Regions from separate parts of the Homo sapiens genome. Here region 2 is linked to region 1. The links come from fine-mapping of genetic effects on gene expression. A gene starts in region 1. The other region holds a variant in brackets. All regions are shown on one strand. Distances are from middle to middle. Region 1 holds the start of IATPR (ITGB1 adjacent tumor promoting lncRNA). Region 2 overlaps NRP1 (neuropilin 1).

Region 1 (2,916 bases):
AGGGAGGTTCTGTCAAACAGTGCCTGGGAGAACCAAACTTGAGCCCTTCTGATGCCAGAAATAGACTGTGTTCTTCACTGCACATTGCCACAACCTGGTGGCAAGTCTTTACAATTCTCTGAGCCTTGGCCTCCTCTTGTGTAAAGTGAGAGGTTAGGATTTCTTTTGTGTTTGGCATTTGATGATGACCCGAGGTGAAAGAGTTGTCTGCATCCAAGACAGCTGGATACCAAGGTGCCATTTTGGATCAGAGAAACTTGCACAAACTCTGGGCCAAATGGTTTTACAGTGGTCTCTGACTCTCTCAGACTAATTTAAGATGTATCCCAGAACGATTAGCCTATGGCCCATTTATATCAAGATCCAGCTGAGTTCTAATTGGCACGAGCAACCGCTGGCATGGTACACACAAGTGCTTGCAAAGGTGATTGCCAACAGCCACCCAGCTGCAGCGGAGAGGATGTGGGCACAAACCCTTCAGATTAGGGTGTGTCACTTGAGACCAGGCCAGAGCCATCAAAGCACCCTGTTTTCCTCCACCCTTTCCGACTGCCCCAAGACTGGCACAGGGTTTAGTAATAGCGAAAGTAACACTTGCCCATGTAGGGACCAACAGTCTTTTCTAGGTTGAGTTTTCTAACTTGAGTGAGGTGCCAGACAGAAAGATGCCACCAGAGAGATTTGGCTCCCCAATGTGCCATGCAGTAAAGCCTGGCCCTTATGGCCTGCCGGACAGCATTACAACAAGTGACAAGCGCACATTTACTGTCATGGCCTGACTGAAAATCCTTGTCGTCTTAATTTGTCATTCCGAAATATATGAAAACACCTACTTAGGCCACAAAGCCTTCTTTTTTGCCTAATGGTGTTCTAGAAATAAACTGGCAGTGAAGGATACTGCATTGTTACGGGGATGTTGTCAGTTGGTTTCGTTTATCCATTTATCAATGCCATTTTGCAAGAAATAGTCTCTGCTTTAGAGATGACACTTCATACATAACAGGGAGGGCGTGAGTTTTCCTTAACTGCCAGAACATTACATAATATAACATGTCACCAGGCCTCAAATGCAGCAGCAAAGACTCTGTATATAGGCGACTCCAGAGCCAACATGTGCTTAGCCAAAAAAAATGATTCAATGCCTTCAGAATGTGGGATGCAAAATGAGATTCTGTAGGAGTCAGGGGTCAATGGTGGGAGAGTGCAAGAAACAGATCTGACAGCTCCCAAGTTCGGGGCAATCTGTTCTCAGTTAACTAATAGTTGAGAGGGATCGCTGAAGGATACAACATTGATACCCCAAAGCGCTCCAATCAGTTTCACTATTTGGCCTGATTTTATGTGTCTGTTTTCCATTCCTCCCTAACTCCTTCTTGGGCTGCAGAATGGGCCTCATTTGCAGGTTTGGTTACCAGTTATCAACTTCCACTGTGATAAAGGACAATTAGGATACAACATTGATACCCCAAAGCACTCCAATCAGTTTCACTATTTGGCCTGATTTTATGTGTCTGTTTCCTATCCCTCCCTAACTCCTTCTTGGGCTGCAGAATGGGCCTCACTTGCAGGTTTGGTTATCAGTTATCAACTTCCACTGGGATAAACGACAATTAGGAGGTGGTGGGGACAGGAGTCCTGCCTGTGAAGTCCCAGTTAATCACCAAGCCATACAACCTCCCCTAAAGAGTCAAGAGCGGATGCAGGCTGTTGATGTTTTTCATTCAAAGCTCGCAATGCACCGTTCTGAAAACTCTCCAGCGTAGAATTCAGGAACCCTGAGTTTTCTATCTCTGTCTAGTTCTGGACTGAATGGGCTCAAGTCATCTAGTTAACCTCTCTGGATTTCAGTCTTCTGAAAAGTGAAGCTAAGAGATCTAGCATTCTGCAGAAAAGTACTGGAGATGACTCAGGACTGAAAATGATCATGAAGCCCCTTTGCAAATATCAAAGTGGTGATGAAGCAGTCATGAACTTTGACCAGAAGCCGTGTTTTGTGGGATTGCCACTTTAATCGCTCCTGTTCATCATTAGGACTGCAGCCAGAGTGTGGAAGGAGGTGAGTGCTTTGGTGGTCTTGCTAGGTTGCGGAGCGTGGGCTTTTGTGGATATGCAACAGTGCCCTCTATTGGCATCCGGCATATTTTAAGCCACTGGAGCTGATAAGTCCATTTTCCTCTGCCCTGTGTCTTTGTACTTCTTAGTGGAGGCCCAGAGAGCTTGTGTGTAAGGGGCTGTGACCAGACTGCTCAGCAAGGGCTTTTGCTTCGCAGAGTGCTGCGCGTACATTAGAAAGCTGCTGAGTGGAAATCTTATTCCCTGGGATTTTAAACAGCCACATTTCCTGGCGTTTGACATCAATGGGACATTTAGCAAATGGAGTGCCAGATGGAGCTCCTGGCTCTATTTTCTGTAAGACACTTGAGAGTCAGAACCCTCCCAATGTTTGCGCTTGATAGGCTTGCCCACCGTAGGGCTGGCCACGGCTCAGTGGATGCGGGGCATTCTGCGGGCTTGCAACGCGGGGAGAGCGGGGACACACAGGATAGCACGTGGCAGCTCGGCCTGCATTGCTACACACAAAAGCATTTCAAGTTCCAGCATCCTTGGTAATTCACTTTAACACTCAGTCACTCACTTCTCTTATGTTATCTGACTTCCTTACAAGCCACATGCAAGAAAACAAATAGTAATTGACTCACACTTTCACAAGCACTGTCTCTCCTGAACTTCTCAAGGCAGTAAGCAAGGCAAACCTCGGTGCCACTGTTTTGGAGATCAAGAAATGGAAGCTTAGATTGTTGAGGGACTTGCCCACAGTTCCATGGTATCACCTTATAACTTATAGAAAAAGCAATGAAATCTCAGATTTTTTCTAATATCTAAGCAGTGCTGTCTTCCCCACCCCCCACCCCCTTT
Region 2 (2,916 bases), 79 kb before region 1:
ATCACGTTGTATGCCATAAATATATACAACTTCCATTTGTTAATTTAGACAATTATTTTATTTATAAATTTTTAAAAGAAATGCGTTAGGTAAAAAAAAAAAATAATGGTTTATTTGAATTTGATATTGTGGTGAGCAAAATTGAAGGGAAACAATTGCTATCATTGAAATTAAAAGGATTTTTCTATGGAAAATATTTGCCTCTGATAGACATTTGTAAGCATACATTTTTCTCCTGCATATTCGCTACTGTTTTCTTATTTTTGCATGTTCCTGTTTTTGTTTTTCAGGTGGCACCACTGTGCTGGCCACAGAAAAGCCCACGGTCATAGACAGCACCATACAATCAGGTATCAAATAAAATACGAAATGTGACAGATTCCATGTACCTCTCTTCTCTCCGCGGCTGCGCTCCTCGCTTTCAGTTTCTCTGAAAGTCCTAGAAGGAGAGATGCCACACAGCATCTGGTCTCCAAGCATGAGCCATAAATATTGCTTTCCTTTCATCCACATGTATATGCAGCAGGGAGTGAGATTTCCTTCTCCATCAGTAATTGCCAAATGGTGACAATCCCAGCTCTCCACTGAAGGAACGGAGTAACATACTTTGTTTAAACGCAGCACATCTAGGACATGGATTGTGTTTGCAAACTACAGGAGAAGGAAATCTCACAGGCAGCACAGCCCGACTATTTATTTTCATCCCAATCCTGCAAAACCCAGGCAGGCAAAGTTTGTCAGTTTTGCCTGCCATGGAGTTGGCAGTTTTACAACAGTGTTTCCAGTGGGCGTGCCACAAAACGGGGTTCAGGAAACCAGAGTTTATAATTGTGCACAGAGAGAAGCACACCCTTGGGAACAGCACCTCCTCATCCTTTTATTAATAGAAAAGCGTAACGACTTTTAAAGCCCTCGGTTTGCTGTCGATCAGGGGCCAGTCACGGTTAAACGGTGGCCTTCCTCTCACTGGCCTTTGTGTTTTGTTAGTATCCTGTGAAATTCTTCCCGGCAGACGTACATGAAGGGAAACAGTCAGTATAAGCAATCAGAGGTTTTAAATACTTTAAAGTTAATCATTAGACTAAGGTGAACAGGTCAGTTTTCCAGCTTTCTCCCATTTCCTCTATTGAAGCTCACTCAGTCTTGGCTTCTGCAGTCATTTATTAATGGGGCGTGTGGTGTATATCAATGTTTCCTCTATGGTATGACACTACCCAGCTAGGCAGAAAGTAGAAAGGGCCGCCCTAATTAGTATGCTTCCTTAAAGGACGCTGTCACTGTTGACCTGATTAAACTGCAAAACAAACTTCTCTTTGGTCAAACTTAACCCCCAGCTGCCCTGTAGCATGTTCAGGTTGACAAAATTCCTGCTACCACACAGCCCAGACAC[C/G]CTCTACAAAACCAAGAGATGAAACAGAAGAGTCACTGCCTAAATTCAGAAAATGGTGTCGTCCTACACACATCTTAAGTTGTAAAATGTGGCTTTCAAAGACTGCGCAGGCACCTCCCATAGCTGAAGGTATCTCATGAAAAAAGCCGTGCCTTTCCTTTTCTTTGTACCTTTCCTGAAAGTTCTCAGCCCTCAGGAAGATTTTCTGTGGATGAAGGGTAGTGACCACCAGTTGGTTCTCTATGTCCTTTCTGGGATAGGGAAGAGGGGTGAGGTGAACAAATGAAGTTCTGATCATATAACAAACATTTTAGCTGTTGTTGCAGTTTCTTCTCTTACCAGAGAGGTAATTAAAGCCACTATGAAGTCGCCAGCTAATTTGTTTCATCTCATCTCTCTTCTCCTTGACTATGAAAGGGGGTAGGGATCGTTAAAAAAAATAAAAGTGAACAACAGCTGTGTAGAAAATGGAAAGTTCTATCAGATTCCAAATCTAGGTAATCTTCCCTGAATGTTGAAGGTCAATATTGTCAGAGCAGGAGCGGTTTTGTTAACACATTTGATTTGTGCACAATCTCAAGGTCACTCAAGGGATGGCTTCTCAGAGGGGCCAGTCGGTCCTGTCACAGAGTCTACTGTGGTCAGAGGGCAGGTATGCAAATTGCAAACAGTAGGACCCGTTGCTATCACCATCTGAACAAGTTCAATCCAAACCACGCGGGTCTACTGATCAGGGGTGGTCAGGTCCGGTTTGCATTTCACAGTCAGTGCAGAGTTCTTTTCAAATTGACTTGCTTTCCTGTTTCTCCATTGTCTGAGTCATGAATCTGGACTCCAAGTGCTCTGTTTGTGGGTAATGGGCTGTCTGACCTTCCTGGAAGGACTTCTGTTGATTGTCACCTTCTGGCTAAGTCAATGCCCAGAATATTGCATGGGGACTTGAGCATGCTTCAAGCCAGGGGTCAGGTCTAACTCTGAAGAGTTGACCCAGTGGCCTGAGTCACCTGATACTTTGATCCACACTGTTCTGCAGGCTCCAGATTCTTCAAGCATCATCACAAGCAGCAGTCAATGAGACCTCAAAACCTTCATCATAATTCCATTTTGCTATTATAGACTCAACTCAGAGTCTTACTATTTCATCTTGCTGATTCTCATCAATATAATAAACTCCATGGGCATATAATATTTATATACTTTTATGTAATCAGATGCATAAAAGCTGGTTAATGCTCTGCCAGCAAGTGATGGGATCCTTACATTTTTAATCTAGCTCTCTCTGGCGAGAGCTCTAACCCTCTGAGGCTCCTCCAGCATTCCTGCAGCAGTTCGGAGTATATTCATCACCTACGATTGTATGGGCCTGAGCACCTCTGCTTGTTTAGACTGAAAGACTAGTCTATGAACAAGTGAGTTAAACTGCTCTATAGAAGTTTGGAATACCAGATATAAAAATTAAATCCTTATGCATACATATGGTGCTAATGATCCAACTTCAGGCAAGATGGGTTGGGCAAGCACAGCTG

What was found. PIP is the estimated chance that this variant, and not a neighbour inherited with it, causes the effect.
Region 2: its variant is the best candidate, but not a certain one, in a credible set for the expression of IATPR in whole blood (Lepik 2017, PIP 0.52).

The regions. Positions count from the first base shown.
Region 1 is chr10:33,115,611-33,118,526 of GRCh38, reverse strand. IATPR (ITGB1 adjacent tumor promoting lncRNA) reads left to right here and starts at 1,720. Exons shown (of 3, transcript NR_160030.1): 1 at 1,720-2,056.
Region 2 is chr10:33,195,084-33,197,999 of GRCh38, reverse strand. NRP1 (neuropilin 1) reads left to right here. Exons shown (of 17, transcript NM_003873.7): 12 at 291-350. Among named protein-coding and RNA genes, the nearest start is that of IATPR, 80 kb to the right of the region's middle. The variant C/G (reference allele first, on the strand shown) is at 1,391.